Regions from separate parts of the Homo sapiens genome. Here region 2 is linked to region 1. The links come from fine-mapping of genetic effects on gene expression. A gene starts in region 1. The other region holds a variant in brackets. All regions are shown on one strand. Distances are between the middles of the regions. Region 1 holds the start of COX18 (cytochrome c oxidase assembly factor COX18). Region 2 has its middle 35 kb from the start of RASSF6.

Region 1 (10,810 bases):
GAGAATAGGAGTTAAAAAACAAAAACTAAAGTATTCTTAGTTTAGGGGACAGTGTTCTATTTTATTCATCTTTAAATCTCCTGTATCATATATTTTGTACAGAGGAGGCATTCAATAGTTTTTCTGAATTTAGTCAAATTATAGTGTATAATAAGACAGTACACAAAGACATTCTAGGTCCTCCATAATTTCACATTTGCCTATTCTTCCAATTTTATCTCGTTACTCCTCTAGACACCTGCATATTCTGGTCTGAATGACTTTAGTTCATCCAACAAATCAGACTTCCGCATAGGCATGCCTTTGGAAGTACTGTATTATATCATCTGTGTGGAAAGCCCACTTTCCTGGCTGTCCATCTGACACACCGTCTTTTACCCTTCAAGACTCAATACTATTGAAAATGCAGGAAGCTGGCCAACACTGTGGCTTGCACTTGTAATTCCAGCTACTTGGGAGGCCAAAGTGGGAGGATTGCTTGAGGCCAGGAGTTTGAGATCAGCCTGCACAACACAGGGAGATTCTGTCTTGTTCAAAAAAACAAAAAAGAAAAGAAAAGAAAAGAAAATGCCAGAAGCCCTCAGATGTTTCCTCCTAGAAAGAAACATCTGTAAGGCTGTATCTGCACAACCATCCTGCCAGTACTGCTTAAGCAAGGTGCCACAAGTCTTATCTAGGCTGCGTTGATAACCCAGGCAAGCAGCTATTAATCTGGTTCTTTTGGCCTATGGCTGAAGCTTTCGACTTCTTTGATAAGTAAAATTTCAAACCTATAGGTCAACTTTTAATTTTTACCAAATAAAGACATTAAGCTATCACCACGATTTTTTAAAATGTCAGATCTTTTTAACACTAAATATAGGACACAATCTCGTATTAAAGATAGTTGGGAAATGTACAACTATATAAAAATATATGGTTAATAATATACACATAACACAGATTGATACCACAAAGGCCTTTTTCCATTGCTGTAAAAAGGAGAATAATTTTTCGCAGTCTAGTAAGGATTAGAGTTTGGGAAACTGATTGAGGAGTTGATTGAAGCAAGAGGGCTTGTAAGTTCCCAGTGAATGAATGCAGACATCCTTGGGCGCAATCAAGCACCCTTAGATTGGGACTTTCCAAGAACCCAGGCAGACAACTGCACAGAATAACCACAAAGGATAGACAGCATCTTAGCTATCAAAGTGTTTCTACTGTGGCACTTGTTTTCTACCTCCTCTTTCCTGTAGGCTATTACCTGCTGTATCTTTTCCAAAAGGTCAAGATTGTAAATAACCTGTGTCATTTGTTGACCAATATCACAAAAGAATGGCAAAGTGCCTTCATCCTGTGAACCCTGCCCTGACCTTCCTTGATGATCTAGCTCCTTGTACATCATCTTTATATAACAGTTAGTTCACTGACATCATTATTTGATTACAGGTCTGTCTTTTTCAATAGGCTGGAATCCCTAAAGAATAGGAACATACTCTTCTTATCTTTATCTATTTATTTCTTTGCTTTCAGTCCAGCATATGAAACTATCATGCCATATTAATAACTTATGAAAATATAAAAGAGTAGGCTGGGCACGGTGGCTCACGCCTGTAATCCCAGCACTTTGGGAGGCCGAGGAGGGTGGATCACCTGAGGTCAGGATTCCAGACCAGCCTGACCAACATGGAGAAACCCCATCTCTACTAAAAATACAAAATTAGCCAGGCATGGTGGTGCCTACCTGTTAATCCCAGCTACCTGGGAGGCTGAGGGAGGAGAATCGCTTGAACCTGGGAGGCAGAGGTTGTGATGAGCCGAGATCACACCATTGCACTCCAGACTGGGCACCAAGAGCAAAACTCCGTCTCAAAAAAAAAAAAAAAAAAAAAAAATATATATATATATATATATAAAAAAAGAAATACTTTACTGCCAAAACTACAGAATACTCAAACTTATAATTAACATCACAATTTATGTATGTGTGTGTGTGTGTGTGTGTGTGTGTGTGTGTGTATGTGTGCGTATGGTCTTACGTGGATATAATTAGCTTACCTGGCATCTCTTTTGGACCACCCCAACTGATTTGCACGAACTGCAACTTCTTGGTTAAGATGCCTGGCAATAGTTTTTATTTCTGGCTGCAAATTTTCCACCTAGCTAAAAAATAGGTTTTGTTATGAGCACATAAAGGATCTTTATTCATAATGACTCATAATCTTTCACATTATTCCCTCGAGTCATTTAAAAATGTAGTTTACTGATCATATCAAGAAATCTTAATTCTAAGCACAAGATGTTAATTTGCTTAAAATGTCCTCAGTCACAACCAAATTCACAATGCATACTTATCCATGTGATCCTGTGCAAGTAACTTAACCTCTAAAATCATGTTCCCTCACATATAAAATATATAACAGCACCTACTTCACAGGGTTACAAATATTAGATAAGAACTGCACCCTGGGCTTTACTGTTCCATCTCTACATTTCCTAGTAACGTAAGCGGAGAAAACAGCAGTTTGTTAAGAACCTTTAATACACTGTGATAGCCACAAATCAAAAGTAAAAATAGCATTTATTCCTGCCCTGTGCTCATTCTTCCTGTAAAATGGCTCACTGCCTTAATGTTGCTGCTGATTCCGTTCCTGTTTTGTTTCCGGTTTTTTTTCCCCATGCTCACAACCTGAAAACAAGAAAGCCACTATTTTTGAAATATCCCATTTGAATAATCAAGCACTTTAACCCGTATTATCTGACTTGCTCTGATAACGCTGTGAAGTAGGCAAGGAAGGTACTGCTAGCCTGATTCCTCAGAAAAAAGGATTCAGCATTAAAAGGTCAAGTAACTGCGACCAACCAGACACAGTCTTAGTCGGGTCTGGAGAGGAAACAAGTTCGCAAACTGTTAGTCTAGTAGTTTCTTCCTAATAAGAAAGACCAGCTGGAATACTTTGGGACGAAAGACACTGCAGACATACTGGCTATTAAAACTTTTAAGACATAAATTTTGTAGGTTTCGCCAACACAATTTCTTCTGCGACTGATTTCTTTGTCTCCGTTCCCCGAGAGCAAGTATAGTAACCACTTGTGCTTGGAGCACAAATCCAGTAAGACAAAAGAAATGACAGGTACACGTGTCACAAAGTATCTTATTTAACACACCTAATGCTAGTTCAATTTTTTTTAACGCTAAAATGGTCACAATGAAATGGTCACGATGATTAAACACTAAGCACTGCAGAAGGCAACATCGTGCGATCGAAAACCCTGAGTGAATGTCGGCCTTCCTCCGCCGCAGGGGTTGCAGCGCAGGGTACGCGCACGGCTCGGCGCCCCTCACCTTGGCCAGGATGTAGTGCTGGTAGGCTGCCAAAGGCAGCGTGACAGCACCCCGTAAGGCCACGGTGGAGAGCAGAATGCTGCCCCACCAGGGCAGGCCCGTGGCGGCGTGCACGCCGAGCAGTACTTCCTCCGCAACCCGCACCGGCGAAGACGCGGCCAGGGCCTCGTACCAGCCGTTCGCATGTACTGCAGAGACTGGTGCCACTGCCCACACTGGGAGAGTGGGGCGCTTGGCGCCGCTCGTAGGAACCGGCGCAAGCGGCAGGTCCCTAGCCCAAAGCTGCAGGGCAGGGAGCGGCCGCAGCCACCGACCGCCGAGCCGGCACAGCATTTCTGCACCACGGCGGAGCCCAGATCCCGGGCCTCACAATCCAGCGGACATACACCGGCCAGCCAAGGCTGATACGCGCACGCGCCAGCAACAGCGGGCATAAAGCGCATGCGCGCCTGCCTGCAGCCGCGATTGACCTTCCCAGTCAAGCCGGTGACGTCTTGCGTCGCAGTGGATGTGACGCAAGAGATAGGAAAGTCCCGCCTTTCCCACGCGGCACTGGACAGGCCTACTGCGCACACGCGAAAGTTTCCCGCTGCTAGGGTGTAGTTAGTCCGAGGCCGGACCAAAACTGCAGAGACATGGGTGGAGCCTGCTGCCCTCCGCCAGGCTGGGTGTTCTTTAGGGAGCTCTCGCCTTGTAAAGTTCATCTACACCGTGTAACTTACCATTCTTTTTCACTAAAGCTAATAGTCATTTGTAGTGGAATTATCCTTGCTCGGTTTTTTGTGACCAGAAGCTGATCCCCAACCTCTTTACGTGCACCTGATTGCTTCCGTTAGCGATTACGATAGATTATCATACTCAAGAGTCACACGTTGCTAAAGTACCTGCTTGTAGAGAGACGCATGTTTCTTGCTGACTCTGAGTGTTAAGCACGAGGGATAGTTCAGTCTCTTGTAGATTTAATTGGCCCATCTGTTCCAGTTAGTATTTGGACCACCAACTGCAAACTGAATTTCTTCGGTGTTTTGTCTTCCATGATAAATAGCAGCAAAAATCTTATAGTAAAAGTATCATCTCTTTATTTAAGGGAAACTATCACTGGCAGTACGGTGAATTCCTTGAGTTTACTTGTATCCTATATAAGCTTTAAAGAGCCTGAACAGCAGCACTGGCTGTCTTCTGGTTTAAAGGAATACGTTGAATCTACATGGACTATATAGTTTTAACTTTTGTGTTCCTGGAAACAACAAAATGGAATGTTGTGGAGGAGTTTCCTCACCGAAGGGTCACCCCTAGACTACAGACTAAAATATGTTGTGAGGAGTAAACCTTGATTTTTATTTATTTATTTATTTACTTACTTAGGAAAAGAAGCCTCCAACAATGTTGGGTAATGTCAAACGCCAGCTATTGTTTGCCCTTCACTGTGCACCTAACCAAGGGTACCCTACGATAACTTTCTCAGGATTCTGGAATTCATCTGCTTTCCAAACTGACTGATAAATCTATACATGAATTTTTAAATGTGTTTAAACACACAGCACAACACACACTATATATAAACTTTTTCTAAAAGAAAAACCTACCAATCTATTTCTTTATCCATTTATTAAGCTAACAAAAAAGCCATCAGTTGCTACTGACTACTGTTCAGCTGTTCATAATCTGAACAGAATTTTAAAGTTATTTTTGCTAGACACAGTGGATCACGCCTGTAATCCCAGCACTTTGGGAGGCCAAGATGGGAGGATACCTTAAGGGCAGAAGTTAGAGATCAGCCTTGGCAACATGGCAAGACCTCATCTCTACAACAAATACAAAAATCATCCAGATGTGGTGGCTTGCATCTGTGGTCTCAGCTACCAGGAGGCTAAGGCGGGAGAATTGCTTGAGCCCCCCGGAGTCCAAGGCTGCAGCGAGCAATGATCGAGCCAGTGCACTCCAGCCTGGGTAGCAACAAGATTCCCATCTCTTTAAAAAAAAAAAAAAAAAGCAAGAAAAGAAAAAAAAAAAGCTGTAAGCTGTTCTTCAATTCCTAAGATTTAATTTTGTGGAGTTCTATCGGGGTCACAAATGAGATTTCAGTGTTGGAACACATTTTTTGCTATACATTGTGTTCATATATTACATTCTTATTTTAAAAAGTATTTCCTTAAGTTTGAATATTGATCTAAATAAAATTTATGAATATTTAGTTTCTGCTAATTTCATATATGTGTATAAACACATTTCTTAATCTATATAACAGGGATGACTAGAACTTGCTATCTACTTGGTAGAGGATGTTGGGGGAAGTAGTTGTCAATTTTAAAGCCCAATGCAAAAGAAAAGTGTTACTACTAATGTATAGGTACTGTTTATACAACATTGTGATTATTTTGTATCTTTTGTTTCAGAGTACAGTACAAAATGATCTACAACTATTGAGTGGACCAACTGAAATCATTTGTCAATCCTCTTTGCAAATGAACTTGTGCAATGTATTAAAACATTTTTAAAGGTTCAACATTTATAATTAGCTTATTCCAGTCTTTGATATTAGTGTTATGTCAGTTAATTTCTCAACTTTAAATTCCTTAAGAAGAGACTACGTATTACATTTTCTTTCTGCAGTCTCTGTAATTCTTAACCATCATGGTGCCAAACACAGGAATGGAGCTTGCTATGGACTGAATATTTTTGTCCTCCCCAGATTCTTTTTTGAAACCCCAAGGTGATGGTATTTGGAGGTAATTCGTCTTAAGGGTAGAGCTCTTGAATTGGGTAAGTGCCCTCATAGGAAGAAACAAGGCTGGGCATGGTGGTTTACACCTGTAAATCCCTGTGCTTTGGGAAGCTGAGTGGGGAGGATCACATGAACCTAGGAGTTTGAGGTTGTAGTGAGCTATGATCATGCCACTGCACTCCAGCCTGGGTGACAGAGATCCTGTCTCTTGGAAAAGACAAAAGCAAGATGACCTTTTTCTGCCCTACACAAAGAAACTGAAAAGGAAACAGCCATCTGCAAACCAGAGAAAAGGCCCTCAACAGAAACCATAAAGGCTGGCATGTTGACGTTAGACATTGTAGCTCTCAGAACTGTGAGAAACACATTCTGTTAATCTCCTCAGTCAACAGTATTTTTGTTGTAGTAGCCTGAATTAAGTGCTGAAAATTTGAATATGGGGTGTAATTATCATGTAATCATTTAGTCTTCTCTTTTCCCAAATATGCCTTCTGAAATGTTTGTCAAACTAAATGACTGTAGCTTACTAGGGTATATATAAAACAACAACAAAACACCTTTAAGAAATAAACTATTTCCATGAGCAATTGTTAGTGATCCCTTAGAATCAGATTAAGATTTCAGTTTTTCTTTCTTACTTAAGGCACTACTTCTCAAAACCAAAGCTACCTAATTTAGAATTGGCTTTTTTCTCTTTATTGAAAGACATCCCCTTGCCATCTTTCTTATTATTGGTTTTCAAGCATTGAAAATGCAAAGTTGGCTTTTGTTTTTCAGAAGTGTGAATCCATTTAAAAGCAGAAGTATAATATGCAACCTCCTACACCACAGATATTAGGTTTGTACTTTGTTACGTTACAAAGGTATTCTGTCAAAGCCACAGTAGCACATTTTCTTTTACACTTATCCAAAATTCAAGTGATATTTTTGCAATCAAGGTGTGCAACACATTAAGACTTATTAAAGCACTGATAATGCTCCCATCTTAAATTCCAGTCACCTGAGTTAATCAAATGCTGTGACTTAAGCAAGCATTTATCAATAGTATATGTATTTCCAAAGACATTAAGGAACATTCGGAATTTAGTGTCAAGGACAGCAAACATTAAAAGTGTAAGATATCTGCATAGATTCATTTACGTAAGTAAAATATACTGAGAATGGAATACTGAATTTCTGCTTATAGTGATTAAAAGCAGTGACTTGGTTGTTCTTTGCTATTTTAATCATTTTGAAATAATCCTGATTTTAAAATCTGTTATTAAAACAATGTTTTGGTACACTTTAAATGTTCTGTAATGCCAGATCTGTGGGAATAAGTGTTGTGAAAAACATCAACATGAAAATAGATTTAATAAACTAGAGGATCTGAAGAGATTTTATAACTTTGAGTTTTCCTGTTTAGTCTAACACTGTACTGTTTTAAAAATAAGTAATATAGGGTACAAAATTTTTACAAAATGTGTATTTAGGTTATTTGAGTCAAAACACGGATGGACTATTATTTTTGTGAAGAACAAGACAGGATTAGTTAATAAGCTATTTACCTTTTCCAAAGGAGAAAAATGACTATACGTAGTCATTTACAAAAAAATTAATTTTCATGTATCAATAAAAATGACTTGACTTTTCAGTAATGGGAAATAGGAGGGGAAATTTCTTCTTTATAAACAGTGAAGTCAGTGTTTGTAAATATGTTGATTATGTTGAAATGTATGTTGAAAAGGCATGAAATGTGGAATTTTGTTGGGAATGGATGGTATAAACTGATTATACAATAATTGAGATATTAACTACTTGGGGATTTAAGGTGTGAACTAACCCAAGTGTAATGTCCAAGAGTTAAATCATTTCTTAAAACAATGATGTAGTCTGCATATACACATACCACATATTTTCAAAATTAAAAAATAAAAGACCTTCATGGTCTCAAAAAGTTATGGGTTTTTTTATTGTTCAAATAAAAGTGCACTGCATTACATCTGAAATATAAAAAATGTATTTTAAAAATGTTCCTAGTACAGACTTCTAAAACCATGGTATTGTACTAAACAAGCCTGATCCCCAAGACTAAATACGGAGCATTTCAATCTATATCCCCTGGCCCCACAGGTTTGAAGTCAAGAAAATATAGGAGTTTTCCCCCTCCTTTTTAAATAAAATACCTCACCTAAGAAATTCAGTATTGTGAAACAACACAACTCATGTGTTGTAATAAATATTGGATAGCATCTGTTCTCCAGCAGGATTACCTTAAATAGAAAATAACCCTAGTTAACACAGGAAAGAATTAAGAAAAAAAATTTTATGTATAGAATAGTGGCAAGTCATATATAAAATACTTCGTTAAATAACATTATTACATCCCTTTTTTAGTAAAGTGCTATAATTTTATTTCATAGCTATATTTATTTGTAGGCTGTCTTTTAGCTCTCCCTTTAAATTTGGGCATATTAAACATAGGTGGAAAAACAAATTTATATATTTTAAGACCACTTCTTAAACTAAAAGATATGAGTGTACTGTTTACAAATTTCTGGATATGTTTGAGAAGTCATCTTTTTACTCTTTACTCAGGCTTTACTCTTTACTCAGATGGAAGAAATCATTTGATTTACTTGACAACCAAGGAACCATGTTAATATCATCAACTCTAGGTGATTTATATGAATTTTAGTTAGTTTTTATGTTTTACCAGTGTGAAATTTTATGTCTAATTAAAAAAAAAGAAGACAAATTGATATATACATTACTCGATTTTTATGCTTACTTTCTTTTACATTTCAACCATATAATTAATTTTTCCATGAGACAGGGTAGGACACATAATCTTCTTGGATACATTACTGTTTATTGTTTCAAGTGGATGGAATATATAAATCCCACTGAGTAGTTTAGTGTGGCCTTGTATCTTTTATAAACAGGTTAAATGGAGACTTTACACTGTAATCTGTGTATTTATCTGTCTACCATAAATTGTCTTCGTGACAAATGCAGAATTTCTTTTATTACTTGGCTCAAATTAACTGTTGATCCTTTTCACTGATAATATACAAGGGTAAAAAAGCAGGAAGCCTTTAAAATTGAAAAAAGAAATAAGATATTTTCCACTAAATTACTGAAAATTGAAATTTTTATGTTGACTGTTGATGACTGAAAAGCCAATGTTAAGAATCAATATCATCCAATATAAAATAGTACATTGAATTATTTAATAAACAGAATATTAAGAGCTTGTATATGCTGACTGGGAACAGTGGTGGCTTTTTAAATTCTCAGAAAGTTTAAACATTTTATAATTAGAAGAAACCACTGGTGATGATGAAGATGGTCCATCTCTGTAGCAGCCATTACAGTGAAAATCTTGACAGAACCTTTTCACTATCAGAAAGATAATTTTACTGGTATTAGTGGTAAAGGTAAGGAGAGAAAAAGGAGTGAGGAGATAAGTCTGTATTAGTTTTAAAAGTGAGAAAAGGTAATAAAACAACATGGAAAAGCCAGAAATTTCTTCTTCTATATGTGCCTTGCTACAAATAAACCAAAAAGAAAGCAAGATGGGTATTTTAAAAGCCAATGTGGGGAAACATCCAATGATAATGCCCATTATTTTACTTTATACTTAAATTACACCAGTAGAAAAGTTATGCTTATTAATAGTTTAATGTATGAAGGAAACATCCAGATTTCTGAATATGAAGGTACATATCTCACATTAATTTAAGTCTACATAAAGTAGAGCCTCTATACTGACATATTGAAATTTACTTTCTGCTTAGCCTTTTCTGTTATGTAAACAATTGTACATTTATTTGCCATTCTAAAACTTCAGGATCAAGTTTACATAATTTTGCTAAATTTCCGTGTTTGCTCAGAAGCAGTTTACAGTACTAAAACCAACCAGCCAAAGAACAGCTTCAACAGAAAGTTATGTCCAAAGGGGAAGAGGGAAAGAAAAAAAGAAAAATGATAAGAAAAATGCTAACTAAGGTAAAACGGATGATGATGGGGAATGGGCAGTCACAAATGTTCACAGAAAATAGGTCAGTTAGTAAGATCTTCTGCAAAAAGCCTACACACTTCAGTCAAGCACATCAGTAGAATGATTTGGGAGCATAATTTTTTTTTTCGGCCACTTGTGATTTCCTCCAAATGAAAAGGAATCTGCAGGCTAACAAGCTGATCCTCATCAGCCAAGCTGGTTCATATGCACACTGTTCATGTGAGGTGCCCAGGGTCCAGTCCACACCTATGAATATAGAGCATGCATTTTACAAAATATATATCTAGCATATATTTTATTAAAATAAAACTTTTAAAAAACTAAGGAGGTACTCTTCAATTTGCAATATACTAGGAACTAATGGAAAAAAATGATAAAAACCTTTTTTCTATTATTTTCCTACCTCTTATCCCTCAAACAGAATCTGATTTACAACCTTTAAAAAAAAAATCATTACCTGAGCATTTATAGATTCACGGTTGTGGAAGAAAAATAAATCAAAGATATTAAACATACACTAAACTAAAATATACAACCATTTATGTGAATTCTCAGAGTTATTTATAGTACCTTTAATAAATAACCTTTAGATGGTCTTTTCACACCACTAGTAAACTTTAATGTATAAAATCATATGACAGTCACTTTGCAACTTAAAATCTTTCATTTATTATCTGCTACCCAGTAGAATATACAATACCTTTCATAATTTTAGCCCCAAACCTGCCTTTGGTACCACTGCCCACAGCCCTCTGCT
Region 2 (16,846 bases), 580 kb after region 1:
TTTGGAAGAACAACAGACAGGTAAACTATGGTTTGTATCTTTGGCTGACATTTTCTCAAAAATGAACAAAATGAACCTGTCACTTCAAAGGAAACATGCAGTGTTTCCTTTGCATGTTTTGCTCATGTGAAAATTGAGTTTTCAATTAAAAAATAGAATTTGGAAAGGTTTACCTATACTTTAACACTTGTCTGGTGAGATCAGTCGCCATATTAACAAATGTTATTTTTTCATATGATGTGAAAAATCTGTCAACATTCGGAACATCTGCATAACTCAGTAAACCAATGTCTTCCAAATGACCAATGCATGTCACAAAATCTTGCATGGGTAAAAGATCGATTCAAATTTCAAAATAGACCAGCATATTTTATTATAATAGAGTATGAAAAGTTCACTGATGTGGTTTCAGGTTTCACATTGCAACTAACCCTTAAGGAACTACTACTTTTTAGTTTTGGTGTAATATCAAAAAAGAATATCCATAATTATCTGAAAATCTTAAAAAGGAGGAACAATTAAAATATTCCTCTTTCCAAGTACATATGTATATGAGGCCAGTTTTTCTCACTATTACAGATTGCATGCAGGAATGGATATGAAAATCTAGATACTTTCTATTAAGCTAGATATTAAGATTTTCAAACCATAAGACAATGGTCTTTTTTTAGTACACTTTTCTCTGTTGTTGTTTTGGAAAACAGTTTTTTTTTCACAAAATATGTTGTAAGATTAACATGTAACAAGTTTATTATTATTTTAAATACATTAATATGTAAATATTGAAACTTTTCTCAGTTTTAATTTCTAATATGGTAAACATTAATAAATATAATCCACATAAGCAAAAGTTTTTTAGGGTCCTCAAAAATTCTGAAGAGCAGACAGGGTTCCATAAACTGAAACAATTAAGAATCCATGATTGGAAACAAAGAGAAAGGTAAGACCTTGAGCTTTATATTTAGGAGTAACCAGCACTTATCTGGTGACTTAAACATGCATGTGGATGAAACTGTTCAGAAGGAGTTTATAAAGGGAAACAAAAGGACTCATAACTAAAACTTGAGATTTAATTTTTTAACCTGTCCAAGTCTCTCTCACTTACAAAATGTGAATACTATTATATGCATTATTGTAAATGAGTTAACCTTTACAAAGTACTTGGCAAAAGTAGAAACTCAGTAAATGGTATTTATTTATCTTTCTTCTGGGGGATAATAAAGAATAAGTTCTTTAGACAGTTTTCAGGTGACTATTTAGTCAGGTACTCTTAGTTTTCTTTCTGTAGGAGCAAGTGGTGAGAAGTGAGAGGTGGCAAATGTTAGATTGAGAGAGACAATGGAGAGGTAAGTGTAGCTTGACATCTGCCCTTACTGATTCATAGGTTCAAGTAGTCATTGGCATTAGAGATCATTTGTTTTCTTATTTCTTTTAAATTGAGTTTAACTGTTCTAGATATTTTGTGGTGTGGCAAAAGGAACAAGGACACTAGGATCAGGAGTGATTTAAATTCTGGCCCTGTTCCATACTGAATGCATTACCTTAGGCAGACTCAACCTCTTGAAGCCCTCATTTCCTCGCCTGTAAAATGAAGACTTTGATACAGACCTCAGGTAGGAGTCATATTACACAGAGAGATGGAATTGAAACACCACCTGCCTTACATAATAGGTGCATAATAAATGGCAATTGTTACTGCCGTTTACTGAGGTGTGAGATAGAGAGGGCAACGATCTCAAAAGCAAGAAACTTATGCTTTCAAAATTTATGACTCCAGCAAAGAAGTTATGAATTATAACTGAGAGATGGAACTAAAAGAAAAATGAAAGTAGATGTGAACAATAGAAAGAAAAATATTTTAGAAAAAAATTAGTTTGAAGATTTTGTTTTTCTATTGTGATTCAAATATCCATTTTAATTATTTTCAAAAGCATATACACACATATTTATCTATCTGTCTATCTATCTGACAAACATAAACTTAGGGCAATTGAAATTAAGTGTGGGATGAGGAAAGAATAGGAAAGGAAGAGTGGTGAAAGCGAAAACTACAGATTTCTAGATAGATATGGAGAGATAGCTATGACAGAAGACAGGTACATAAGATGGAGCATCTTTACAAGCTCGAAAGTTGAAAGACCTTGCAATATCACTCAGCCCAAGGCCTGCGTTTTGCAACTATGGTGGTCATGTCATCTGCTAGTCTCCATTTTCTTGGCATTTCTTTATAGGTTATTAATTTAAGGTTGATTTCTTTTCCTAAAGTGCCATGAATATGTTGGAGGCAGTACAGCTCAATAGAGAGCTCAGCTTTGGATCTTGGCTGAATAAAATTTGACCCTCAGCTCAGCCAATTTGGGAAAGTTAATTAATGTGACCTATCTTATTGAGTTCCTATCTGTGCCTGCACTACTTTCTAATGACATGATAGTGAGCAAAAGACACCTATAATACCTGCTTTTATGGACCTTAGGTATCAAGTGGGACATAGGCATTATTTAATAATGACACAAATGAATGTATAATTCCACATTGAAATAATTTCTAGGTTTTATTAATGGGAGTGTGGGGAGTGCTATAGTCAGAAGAAACAGCATATGCGAAAGATTTGTGTCAGGAAGGAGCAAGGAACATTAAAAGCCTGAGAAAGAGCAGGTGAAGACAGTGAGAATACAGATGCCTTTCTTGTGTGTAGACTAGGGACAATAGCACACAAGGTTATTTAATGGATTAGTGACAGCGTATGATAATCTCCAACCATTAGTGGCTACACATCAAATGGTGGTTACAAGGATCATTTTATAATTGCTGAAGAGGTGAAGACTGTTCTTTGAACACATAATGTCAGATCTACCTTCTCTTTAACACTTTGGATGTACTCACCCTTTAAGGCAGACCACTCACAGACAACTGTGTCTCAGTCCCACAACCCTGCAATGCCCAGCAGACCTGTAGTTTGTGGGCAAAATGGAGTGTTTTCTTTCGGTCTTGAACTATGTAGAGGCCTGTTGGTGGAAAAAGGTATGTTGGGAAGGCGTGGTTAAAAGGAAGGAGGAAAGAAATCAAATCAGACCACTGGCAGACAAATATATCTCAGTCCCTACAGCCCTGCAATGCCAAGCAGACCTGTAGTTTGTGGAGAAAATGGAACGTTTTCTTTCGGTCTTGGACTATGTAGAGGCCTGTCAGTGGAAAAAGGTATGTTGGGAAGGTGTGGTTAAAAGGAAGGAGGAAAGAAATCAAATAAACTTAGTTTTCAAAGTCTTTTTTCTCCCCAGACATGTTTTGAAATGTGACATTCCTTTCCTCCAATCTGTCATTTTTTATCCTTCAGGCAAACGTTTAAACCTCCCAACATGTTTCTGCAAGCAACGTTCTGAACAAGGAAGCTAATATAGGAATTTTTTTCTGGCATTATCAGTGGAATTGAATTCAATTGCATAGTCAGGTAGTCTTGCCTGTCTGGTGACATTCAAATGGACTCCAAGGAGAGGGGCCTGTAGCCCAGGAACTGCGGCACTCACAGCCTCAGACCAAATCCCTTCTTCATTCTTGACTTCTCTGTATTTTAGTTGTCCAATCAGATGAATGGGGATAATGATGAATATAGTAATACCTACTTCATAGAATTGTTGTGAGGATTAAATGAGTAAACACAGTAAATGTGTAAAGCCTTTAGAACAGCTCCTGGCACAGAGTAAGTATGTGCAAGTGTGCAGGTGTTAGCTGGTGTTATGATGCCTGAAGTGGCTGCCAGTTTTGCCCTCCCTCCTTCCAACATATACACTTGCACACCCACATGTCCATATACATATATAAATAGAAATAATGTGTATATATATATATATATATATATATATATATATATATATATATAAGCACACAAGATTTTTATGATCTTGTCAGGAAGGATATGTTTTCAGGGTGTCGTATAATTGAAAAGACTTTGAATTTAGTAAGTTTTCAAATACCATAGTTATTTAAAACAACAGACAAAAGGAAGAACATGTTTTAATTTCTACAGCATCTTTCTAGGATCTAGTGTTGTTTCATAACAGTTAGTGCATGAGGTGGAAAGGAGTGGGAGAGGATTATTTTGGGGATAGTTCTTCTTCCCTTTCCTGATATGTGTAAACATCAATCCACATCAACTTTACCAGTTGTCCCGTGGCCCTGGCACCCACCCCAGCAAAATGAAGCCCTAAGGAGAAATTACAGAAGATAGCAGGGAGGGGGGTTGAGAAGCCAGTGTATTCCTTGTGCTTCCTGTGTCCAGACTAAGGTCCCGTGACCACCTTTGCTTGCAGAAGGCTGAGCTCTCCTGAGTAAGAACTCAAGTTTTTTTCCAGTCTTCAGGTTTCTGAGTAATTTTGCCTTTGGGTACACAAGAAGGGATTAACGGACACATTAGCACCTCTTCTCCAAACTCCACATCAGCTGTTATCCGAAACAGCTCACATTTCCATTGCAACCTTACAGCCAGAGGGTCACCTTGTTTCCTGTCAATCTGTCACTGTGAGGATCTGTTTTTTTGCCATTCTTTTATGAAGTTGGAGAACTTGAGGCTGCAGGAGCTTGTGCTCAGTTTTGTTGAAGCTGCAGTTCCAGCACACATATCAACCATTTCTCATTTTCATACATGTTACTACTTGAGTCCTATTTGTGGCTCTCTACATTGCCAAATTCAACACATTTTCTTGGCCACCACTGACATTTGTCATGTTCCCAACTTTCTTTGCTCTAATAATTTGTATTTCCCTAGAAACCCCTATAAAAGGAAATGTTGACACTCATGTATGAGTGAAATGTGGGCTCTACCTGGGGTTAATGGTAACCCCCATATTTCACTGACATTTGTTCCTTAACTACATAGCACGAGAAGTCAGTCCCCAGAAAAATCCCTTCTAAGGTTTTCTAGATTCTCCTGGGAGATTTCAACCCAGTCCTCCCATATTCTTCTCCCTGCCCCCCATCTGCAACATTTTAGGCCATACCAATTCCTCTGCTGTTGGGTTTCTTTATGGAAAAGCTCATATCCAAGTCTGAGACAAAGGTGTTTTATCCTGAGGCTTTCAAAACTGTGAACCCTGGAAAGGCCCAAGTGGTCCATACATCAGTGAGGAGAGGGTTCCCGCTTCCCTTGTGCACATTGCTACCAGGCCCAAATCATACTGCTCAAGTCCAAGGCCTCAGAGAGTTCTTCCTGGAGAAGAAAGGTCCCTCCTCTGCCTCTAGCACTCCTTCTCTTCAGTCAAAAATCTGTTATGCATCTAAGAAATAAAATTGAGATGTCTGGCTTCTGGTCTGGCATGTAAAGAGCTTAGAATTTGTTACTTTGTCCTAACAACAGGTAAAAATCTGAACAAACTGAACAATCAACAACTCTTCTTAGAGAAGTGAAGTCACAGAGTAAAGTGCTGCTCCCAAAATTTGAGAGACAGATAGGCAGACACAGGGAATCACAGCTTACCTAAGCAGAAATCTACTAGTAGAAAACCACCTTGGGCACCTGTGCTGGGTATGGAAACCTGAACTGCATTGATGAGTTGCTGGAGGCTCAGCATGGACAAGCCTGGGAGTTAAAAATCTGGGGTAGGGGACAGTCATGGGGAGGTTCTCACTTTCTGTGAGTTTTAACTCTAGGAGCTCCACCAGGTTCTTACAGTAAATGTTGGAGAAAACTCCACTCATGCTTCCAGGAGAGGAAGGGGAAATATACCAGAGCATCCTGATGTTGCTGGTTCTGGAACCAGACTTTGGAATAGGGTGTTGACCACTGTTTGCTGCTTCTCTTTTCTATGGCTTGACACAAACCACTTCTGCACCTTCACTGCTGAACTCTGTGCCTGTGCGCTGGCCTGCTCGCCTTCACATTCAGGGACCCTGCCATGGCTGAGAGTGAGGGCTACACAAGAATGCATGGCAGTAAGCTGAAGTCTCATCCTTCCCAGCTGAGCTTTGCTTCTGCAACTAGGAGAACTGACATTTCCTCTCCCTTGGTAGTGGTGATTACTCCATAGAAGCACCTGTACCAAATAATTGATTGAGCTAATTCATTAATTCCTCAGATGAAGAGAGGGAGGGAACTAAGACAGGGAATGGGTTAAGCCAATAGTTCAGTGTGCACATGGAATGCTTACTAAAAATGCAGATTCCCCACCACTTCCACCATTGCCTCACAAGAGTCCTGATCTCTTAGGTCTATGGTAGGTTAAGAAACAGCATTTTAAAGAAACACCCAGATGATTTAAGCATAGTAATCAGAGGATCCACTTTGAGATATATTTGATTACATACTTGACCCAAGTTTGCCCAGAGAATGGCATACAATAAATATAAATCATGTCTGTCTTTCAAATATGTTCTTGCACTGTGCACAAGCAATATTTAGGCTCCGAAGAGGCAAGATCGACCAAATGACCAATTCTCTTTCAACTACAACTTGCTGTCTCTTTGCGAATGACTCTGGTAAATTCTTGAGGTGAGTTATGTTTTGCTGTGCATCTATTTCAGCCACTGTTATTTAAGAAAAGGATAACTATAGGCATCAAAAAATATAATAGCAAATTGTGCTTTCTCTAAGGCAACACATTTAAAAACCATATAAATCCAAATATATATCAAATGATGTAATTTAATTTGATGCAATTCAATACATTACAGCACAATACAGCAAAACACAATGTAATGTAGTACAAACCGCACTGCAACTTCAGTGCAGTGGGGTTAACGCAGTCCTCATTTCAGGTCTTGGGCTGCAGCGCCCTCTAGTGACGTAAACTTTTTTTTTTTTTTTTTTTTTGCGTGTTTGTAGTGGCTACAGCTGCACCTGGCACGGAATAACTGTCAACAAACAGCCTGTTCAAATGGGAACGAGCTGAGGCCCAGCTGACTCCAATGTTATATGTCAACAGAAATTCTAGATTAACAGATTTTCCTGAGCTGCCACCTGACCTAGTGATAAAGTAACTAATTGTGCTTTTCATAGTATTAACTGTTTTCACTACATTCTTTTGATTTGTGACAAATAAAAGAAGAACTGTAATCAGCTTGATTTTTTAGCCTGCAGAACAGGAGGCTGGAGTGACAATACAAGGGTATTAGAAACCCTATGAAGATTAATATAAAACAAATACAAATAGAATAGACAATAGAATATAACAGAAATAAAACACTGTATCCTCTAATATACAGTCATCTCCTCTCCATGGTTGAAGAGCAGCTGCTCCTTTGCTATTTGGAGACAGCAAGGATAATGCTAATAATAAGAAATCCTTATTTTAAGAAATATGCATGCGTACTAATAATTTATTGAATACCTAGTATGCTTCAGCCTCTAATGAAATACAGGGACAAGCATGCTAACACACCTTAAGCCATTTTTTCTGCATGTGGGCTCCTTTTCCTTTCTCACACACTTGCTGAGGGTAATAAGGGCTTTATTGAGGTCAGGTACTGTATTAAGCACTTTATTACGCTGTTTTCATTTAAGCCTTATAATCAACAAATGAGGTAGGTATCGCCATCACGATTTTAGGATACTCAGACTGAGTAAGTGTCAATAACAGGTTCAAGGTAATACTGCAGGTAGGCAGCAGGGCATGATTTGAACCTGTTAGTCGGCAGAGTGGTGGGATAGATTGAGGATTTAAAAGAGCATAAAAGTTCAGAGGAGGCTGTTTTGTTGTGGCATCAGCTGGGGAACTCATTAAATAATGTGTTATTTCTCTTTAATGTGAGCTCCCTACTGTCATCCTTTTCTCTCTCTTCCTTCCAGTATTCATAGAGCATCTCCTTTCC[G/A]TGCTATTCACTGGTAACAAACTCTGAAGATACAAACACAGAAGGATACTTTAGTGAGATACTGATTTCTGTTTCCCCAGATGTTTTTCCTTTTTGGATTCCCAGCTCTTATGTTCCCTTGTCTGAGGAGAGGTGGAAAATAAGTTGCTAGAGGCAACCTTCATTTGGCTTTTTGCTTTCTTAAAACATAAGGTATCCAAAAAGTTGTACTGAGGGAGGAAAGAAGGGGGAAAATACAGAGCAGAGCTTTGAAGCATAAGAAGAGGTAAGAGGAGACATTTCCTCAGAATGTGAATAAAACAGTGTCAGTGGATCCTGAGGGTAGCAGTGCCTCATCCCCTGGCAGCCTCTTGGAAGGATAACAAGGAGGTATTAGTACAACTAGCAGTCATAGACATGGGAGCTTCCAGTCTTAGAAAAGGCATCCAAGGCTCAGGGTTCCATATAATTTATTATCCAAACAGGGCCACTGTTGAAAGTGAAAGGAGATGCTATTAATAATTATGCCCAAATAATAGGTGTCAATAGGAACTGTCTGGAACAAGCTGGCACATATGGTCACCCCGCCTATGATCTTTTTGACTCAGAAATAATGGAGTCCCTGCCTTGAACGTCCCTGCCTTGAGTCCCTTGAGTGTCCAGGCGTCTTTGAACAATGAGAATTTCAGATTCTACTGTGTTTGCTTTTCTTTTTAGAAAATATTTTAGAAAATGATTCTGAAATTTATATGAAAATGCTAAGTATATCAAACAAATCTTTGAAAAACAGGAACAAAGATGGAAGACACATTATTTGATTTTAAGACTTACTTATAAAACTACAATATAATCACAACTATGGTATTGGCAAAAAGAGAGATAATAAAAAACAATAGAGTCCAAAAATAGACTAATATATTTATGATCAATTGATCTTGACCATGGAGAAAAGAAGTATTTTAAGCATTGGTGTTGAAACAATTGGGTATTCTATATACAAAAATAAACTTGGATCACTATCCTGTATTGTATACAAAATTAACTAGAAAAAGATCACAGAGAAACTAAAACTGCAAACATTTCTAGAAGAAAACACAAAACCTTGAGTTAGGCAAGGATTTAATAAATAGGATACAAGAACCACAAATCATAAAATTAAAAACTGAATAACTAGATTTCTTAAGCATTAAAAACACTGTAAACATTAGGAAAGATGCTTTAAGAGAATAGTAAGTAAAGACTGGGAAAAATAATTACCAAACATATATGTGATAAAGAACTAGAATATATACAAAATTCTTATAACTCAACATTAGTAAACAAACAACCCATTTAAAAACTGGGCAAAAGAATTGAGCAAATATTTTACAAAAGAAGGCATGCAAATGTCAAGTAAAGACATAAAAAGATGCTCAACATCACTTGTTATCAGATAAAAGCAAATAAAATCTTAATGCAATATTAGTGTGCTCCCACTAAGTTCACACAAAGACTAGGATGAAAATGGTCATAGCAGCTTTACTCATAATAGCCCCTTTACTCATAATAGCCCCCAATTGGAAACAACTCTAATGTCTAAAAAATATTGAATAACCAAAGAAATTGTTGTATATCCATAGAGTGGAATACTTTTCAGCAATAAGAAAGTAGACTACTAATTCTCACAACATAGATTAATCTTAAAACGTTATTCTGAGTGAAAGAAGTCACATACAAAAAAACCAATGTGTTATATAATTCCAATTATAAGAAATTCTAGAAAAGGCAAAACTGTAGTAATAGAAAGCAGGAAGAATGGCTGTCAGAGGCGGAGGGTGGTGAAAGATGTCTAACTAATAGGAACACAAGAGAATGTTTTTTGTTTGTTTGTTTGTTTGTTTGAGACGGGGTCTCACTCTATCACCCAGGCTGGAGTGCAGTGGCACGATCTCAGCTCACTACAAACTCCGCCTCCCGGGTTCAGGCCATTCTCCTGCCTCAGCCTCCCGAGTAGCTGGGACTACTGGCGCCGGACACAACGCCCGGCTAATTTTTTTTTTTTTTTTTGTATTTTCATTAGAGACGGGGTTTCACCGTGTTAGCCAGGATGGTCTCAATCTCCTGACCTCATGATCCGCCTGCCTCGGCCTCCCGAACTACTGGGATTACAGGCATGTTTTGAGGTGAATAATATGTTCTATATTTTTATTGTGGTGTTGGTTATACAACTGTAAACATTTTTCGAAACTCACCAAATTGTTCTTGTAAATTTGGTGATTTGATTATATGTGAATTCTACCTCAGTGAAGTTTATTTTTACAAAAAGGAGTCAGGGAAGTGGGTATGCTGGAGTAGACATACTGTGTAAGACTGAAAACCCCACAAGACGATTATGTCGCATAGAACGTCCTGGTGGGTAGATCACTTGTGAAGGCCACTGGGAACATGTTGGTGAGATTGGCATCAACATCAGTAGATTCAGTGGTATATCTCCCAGGCTGGCTGGAGCTGATGCATAAGGCCATCTGGCTGTACTTAGCCATCAAGAACAAGTGGATGTGATCGATATAATGAGTGGCAAGCTCAGAGTGGTCGGTGTAGGACCCTGACCTGCAGAGAATGATCGTGACGGTTAATAGAACATGGTATATCCTAGAGGTGAATAGCGGGGCCACCAACAAGGACAGTACTCAACTTGTACCATCAGAAGAAATCAAGGTTGGATGGTCAAGAGATTGAGTGCGGTTGTGCCAATAAAATGTCTTGGTCCTTTTCCCAGTTTCCAGACCTAAGCCTGTTTTTAATACTGGAACCCATTAATTAACCCACCTGTGTGGGAGTCATTCCTACTTCCAAATATGTAGCTGGGCTTGATATACATGATAGTTGGTACAAATCTTATGTTATGTCCTTGGTGGGTAGGGTAAGAGCTGTCACAGATGAGAATGTCAAATACAAGCACTTAAATGATCCACCTCCACCCACCTATTCCTGGTCAAAATGGTAAGTAAAAAGCAGGGTAGTATATTAGAGGAGGGAGGGCAGTTGAAAATTGTTGCCACTCTTAAGTATCTGGAAGACATGGTGGGGGTTGTTCCTGTCATATTTCATTTAGCAGTGTGGCTTCTGAAGAAAACAGATGATACTGGTGGACTATTGTCTCCACAAACTCAACCAGGTGGTAGCAACACCCCTAACTGCAGCCACTGTGCCAGACCGAGCAGATGAACCTGGCCTCAGATATGTGGTGGGGAGCTACTGATTTGGCAAGTGTTCTTTTCTATTCCTATCAAAAAAGAGTTCCCGTTCACATAGAATGGATAATCATATATATTCAGAGTTTTTCCCTGAGGCTGCCCCATCTTTTGTAATAATATAGTCTAAAGCAATTGGACTGTCTAGACATCTTCCAGAATATCACACTGATCCACTGTGTCAATGACATCATGGTAATCAGGTCAGATGAGCAAGAATTGGCTGGCACATTGGAGGCTTTAAGACAAATGTGCTCCGGAGGGTAGAAGAGAAACCCTTCAAAGATTTAAGTTCCTGACATACCAGTGCCAGCATATTCCTTCCTGCCCCTATCATATGTATCAGTAGGCCTATCTCCTTCTACGTCCTCCTGATGGTCGGGGTCAAATCCGTGATCAGCATTACCAAGCCATGATGGTGACTCCTTTTCTTGCCTGCTGGTGCCTGCACAGAAAAAGACTGAAGTGCTTTCAGAGGCCATATCTTATAATTCAATAGGATGCTTAGTTGTGGCCTATTTAATGTGTTCTTGATAGGGAACAAAATTTCTAACCTTGAAGCTTCCAGAATTGCCAGGAAAGAAAGCATACATTCCCCAAGTGCATCATTGGGATGGATGTTAAGCAGGACCACTTCTGCTTTCACCTCTTTATTCTCAAACTCATGCAGTCATCTGGTTAAGGTCATTGCACCATATAAGGTCTTCGGTTCAAGGTACATATACTACCTAGATGATGGCTCCCATTCTTGTGGTAAGATATCACCTCTAGGCTGGTGTTTCAGTTGTGCCTTTGGCAGGCCACTCTAATGCTCTATTGGGCTGCTGACCTCTGGGTGATTCAGTTTTTGATACAATCAGTGAATCTCACGGCCATGAGCCAATTCCTTTGTCTCCTGTGTGTGTCTCTGATTAAGCGTGATGTTAGGTGGCACCCCATACCCATGCACTGAACTCAGAAGATCTACTTTAGTGCCTCTTGGTGCTCTCTTGCCCAATTTTGATGGTAAATAGACAAGTGTAGCAATCCTGGCTTGAGAAAGGCACTGCGATCAGGGATGTAGGCTCATTGAGAACGAGTTTCTGGGTCACGTCACCAGGAAAGCCTCTAAGACAAACAGCGGTGGCAGCTGAAAAGAAGGGAGATCTACAGTGAACAATGAAGGAGGGAGACAATCAATTGAAATTCCACAGCCAGTTGCAGAGGCAAGGACTATAGTTCTTCCCACTTAATTGTCTTTCCTAAGTTTGCCCCAGGAAGAGAGGCCATAGAATTCTGGAAGAGCTATTCCCCATATATTGAAAAAAAGTGGATCCCAGCAGTGCTAGGGGTGGACGGAAGTGAACATGCAGCTGTGCCACCCAGATTCTCTTTCATTGCCACTGGAGCACTTCAGCAATCACACCAGCTAGAGAGTCACCTCACCCAAGGTCATGCCCTTCTGGGGCCTGCCCACACCCAGTAACTGATAAAAGTGAAGGGACAAAGACCCATTTGATTCAAGGCAGAACAACTCTGCTGTGCCATTAAAGCAGCAGGAATGATCATTTAAGCTACGACTTAATAGACAGTCTAGGAGAAGTAGATGCACATTTATTTAAAGTTTCTGCTATTGTTTGAAATTAGAATGCTATTAAATTTTCATTACTATGAATAATATGATGGAGATATCTTAAGCATGCAATTTTTCTCTCTTGAAAGAATATTTACAGGATAAAGTCCTAAGAGCAGTGTTACTAACTCAAGGCACATGTATATTTTTATACCTCCTGACCTCCATTGCTTAATTGCTTTTCATTTTATTTTATTTATTTATTTATTGTTTTTTGAAATAGAGTCTCGCTCTTTTGCCCAGGCTGGAGTGCAGTGGTGCAATCTCAGTTCACTGCAACCTCTGCTTGCCGGGTTCAAACAATTCTTCCTGCCTCAGCCTCCCAAGTAGCTGGCACTACAGGTGCCTGCCACCACGCCTGGCTAATTTTTTTTCTTTCTTTTTTTTTTTTTTCTCTTTTTTGGTATTTTTAGTAGAGACGGGGTTTCACCACATTGGCCAGGCTGCTCTTGGACTCCTGACCTGAGGTGATCCTCCCGCTTCGGCCTCCCAAAGTGCTGGGATTACAGGCGTGAGTCACCATGCCTGGCTTAATTGCTTTTCAAAAGAGTCTCACAGGTTTGCTGTGGCATACATAAACATATATGCTTCTGTATAGTCCACACCTTGTTGACTTTTCTAGCTCAAGTATTTGTAGACTCTCAAAAATTCTGCTCAGTTTTTCTTGGCATGAAGAATTGTTTAGCTAATTTTGAAAACTTGTGTTCACAAAGTCTAAAAATTTAATCCAAATTTGAATGAGGAAGATGAGACAGTTTATCAACTTTCTCTAATGAAAGTTACTGGTAACATGAAAAAACAATTTCCTACTCATACAATAAATCTACACATATCTTTTTCAGCCTTTTTGGACTTTGTTGTTGTTGTTGTTTAGTGGAAAGATTTGCTTTATATGATTAGACATTGAAAAATTTGTATGGCTTTGGGAAAGAAAAAGATGCCTCTGACATCCAGGAGCTGGCCTGGCACTCCAGCTATGTCTTAGCGATCTCCTCTTCAAATAAATGATTTCACAGAATACCGACATCAGACAATGCCACCCTATGACCATGGTGAATCAAGACAAAAACAAGACCTCTCCGTAACCATGCATGAACACAGGCAAAGAATGAAATCTGTTTAAATCACAAACATGGCCCAATATCTCCCAATCCTGGCTAATTAGAGTGGCTATTGCTTGTTTATTGCTGACAGTTTTAGCTTGACTCTAGTCTTCCCTCTTCCTAGATAAGAATTATTGAGAGATCCAGTCATGACCTTATATCACTTCCTAACAACATCCGATCTAGAGCAAAGCCATGCTTCTCAAACCCTCCTCCAAATCACGTGACACAAGGCCACATTCTGTAAGTTCTTTCTAATGCCCTTTTAGTAAGACACCCCACCCCCTGCCCCGCACCATGTGTGTTCCTGGAGGAGGACATTGAGAACTTTAAAAATTTACCTTTTAGTAATTTCAGATTAACTTGGTTAGATTTATTGGAGAGCAAAACAATTCTCCCTCAGGTGACTTCCAAGGGATAATTATGGGATAATGTATTAGGTTGATGCAAAAATAGTTGTGTTTTTTAACAGTAGTTTCAATGGCAAAACCCACAATTATCATAAGCTAGCCTTCCAGGTTAACTTTCCTAACTTGTACAATATTTCCTTTCCTGATTTCCTCAATTTCCATTATACTTTTCTTCAGACAAGTTAATAGTCCAATGAAATTTTTTCAAATGCTCAACAATCTTCCTCATTCCCAAATAAATTTTAATATATATGTATAAGCACATATACATGCATATTCATTATATATTTGTATACTTGTCACTTTAGACAATTTGAGTATAGAACTACTTTCAAGGAGATGACAATCCAGTTTGCCTTTGGCTGGTACACTTCTTGCCATTTGCTTATATAGGCATTTTGACATTTTGAAGTTTCCTCCCATCTTGAGTACAGCTGATCCAACTATCTGGGAGTAAACAGAAAGACCAATGGACACCCACAGGAAACATGCTGAGGTGCACATGGAATGTGGATAGGAAAGAGGTCTGTTATGATAAGAAGGGCTGTGGTGAGCATCATAGCCAATGTGGGGAGCCACATTCTGCAGCTCTTGGTAAGTGAGGTCAGTGGAAAGACTTGAGTCATGAAGTGTATATATCATTCTTTCAATTCCTGAGGAAAGCTTCATGGGGGAAACGATTTTGAATAAAATGAGAAACAATTAGTTTGGTCATGTTTTATTTCACAACAAAATTTCCTGTTTTTAGTTTAAAAGGTACCTATGACTAATAACGTTTTCCCCAAATTTTCAGGATATGAAGCTTGTGTTCCTTGAGTTTGACATAAATTGTGCTTCAGGCACTTACACAAGTTGATGAATAGCAATATAATTGACTCATTGTGAATGCCTTTATTCATATTAACCTATTATGATGAATTTCAAATTATAGAGTCTAGATTAGCAGTAGAGCAATTATCTGAGCAGTGAGCTTGTCTAGAGACTATTCTATATTTTTATCTTCAGGAAGATGTCCACAATGGAGCTCCTATTAAGACCATAGCATGCTGAAAGTAAATTCCTCACTTAGAATTATTTCAAGACAACAAAGCATACAGTATTGGTATCCATGTATCAGATAAGACTTTTCAGTTGCAGAGAACCCAACTCCTTGGGAACTAAGCAATAATGTAGATTTGTTGGTTCATAAAACTGTAAACCAAAGGAAGAGCCAGCATCAGACTTCTTTTGGTCAAGATTTTGGCCTCTGTCTTCATGCTGGCTTCATCCTCAGCCTGGCTGTAACCTCATGGTCACAAAGATGGCTGCCGTAACAGCTAAGGCTGCACACTTCCTTATTCATTTCCCAAGTAGAAAGCATCACTTCTCACAATCACCAAATGATAATTCCAGATCTTTACTCAGATTGAACCAAGGTAAATTGACCATCATTGCAAGGGGTGTAAGAATATGCTGAAGACCTTCCCCTGAGCTGGAAGTGGGTCAGTCCACTAAGAAATCATGGTTACTGCGTAATTACCAGGTGGTCACTACAGTTATTTCCTTAAAGGAAAATAGGGGTCCGTTTGGAGAGGAACAGGGGGAGTAGGTGCTGGTTAGACCTGTCAAGCATCTGCCATTTTAATATCTCTATAGAAAATGATATTACATCCTACCTATAAGTGGCAGTATTGGGCTAAAAACGTGGGCTCTGGACTTAGATCGTGGCCATTGAATTCCTAATTCATCACTTACTAGCAACATGGTTTTGTGAAAGTCACTTAACTTCTCCATTTCTCAGCATTTTTATTTGTAAAACAAAATTAACAGACTCTTGTAGAGTTTCTATGAAGATTCAATGGAAAAATGCATATAAAGCACTTAGTATAGAGCTCCTCACTTTGTAAGTACTTGGAGCAACATTTGCATGTGAACTAGCCACTTGATGGTCTCTCTAAGGCATCACTTTTATCTGCTTGGGCATCTGTGTGGTGCCCAGTGTGATTTGGGGGCTTCTCTTTCCATCCTCAGGTCATTTTTATCAGCTACTGGATTCATTTTAAGCAGACTTTTGACCCAGAGACTGGAGGGTGGTCTGATACTATAAAAGCAGTGTGTTCTGGTACATCGTGGTATAAATGTTCAAAAGGAAGCCCCACCAGGGGTTCCCAATAGGGAGTTTCCTTTGCAACGTGAATATCATTCTTAAGTGGTTTGAGAACAGGGTACAGCAGCATCTTACTGGGCATCAGTTTGTGTGCTCCTGTCAGGAAAATTACCATCCAAGCCCACTAAACCCACACAGAACCATAATGTTTTAATTATTCCTTTATTACTTCCTTCAGGTAATTGGAAGGCTAAATATACTTACATGGCAATACTCTATTTTATTTTATTTTAATTGAACTTCACTCTATAAAAGACTTGGAGTTAAGGTGGGGAAAACAGGAAGAAAGGAGGAGGAATAACTAGTTAGTTATTTGTTTTTAAAACTCACCATGTGAGGGCTAAAATCAAAGCTTGGATTACATTTGGGAAAATCTACATAAACTTTGTAATGTGTAAAGTAGGCAAATTAAGAGAGATTGCATCAAGTAACTCTGCCTTGCAAAATAATTCATCTTGTGTATTTACTAAAATGACAAACTTGGTGGTTTTGAAATGTGATTTGTGTTTTTAAGGGAAGCAGTTAGGGCAGAGTAAAGAACTTCAGCTTTGGAGACAAGAAGA

The links. PIP is the estimated chance that this variant, and not a neighbour inherited with it, causes the effect.
Region 2: its variant is fine-mapped to the expression of COX18 in whole blood (INTERVAL, PIP above 0.99).

Annotation. Positions count from the first base shown.
Region 1 is chr4:73,065,992-73,076,801 of GRCh38, forward strand. It overlaps COX18 (cytochrome c oxidase assembly factor COX18), which reads right to left and starts at 3,725. Exons shown (of 6, transcript NM_001297732.2): 1 at 3,326-3,725; 2 at 2,038-2,138. The coding sequence starts at 3,658. It overlaps ANKRD17 (ankyrin repeat domain 17), which reads right to left. Exons shown (of 34, transcript NM_032217.5): 34 at 7,385-10,299. The coding sequence ends at 10,240. It overlaps LOC112268467 (a long non-coding RNA gene), which reads left to right and starts at 3,955. Exons shown (of 2, transcript XR_002959797.2): 1 at 3,955-4,038; 2 at 5,722-5,831. RefSeq lists enhancers at 3,044-3,559, 3,494-4,013, 3,560-4,076.
Region 2 is chr4:73,647,071-73,663,916 of GRCh38, forward strand. No RefSeq gene overlaps it. Among named protein-coding and RNA genes, the nearest start is that of RASSF6, 35 kb to the left of the region's middle. RefSeq lists a silencer at 14,557-14,762. The variant G/A (reference allele first, on the strand shown) is at 7,801.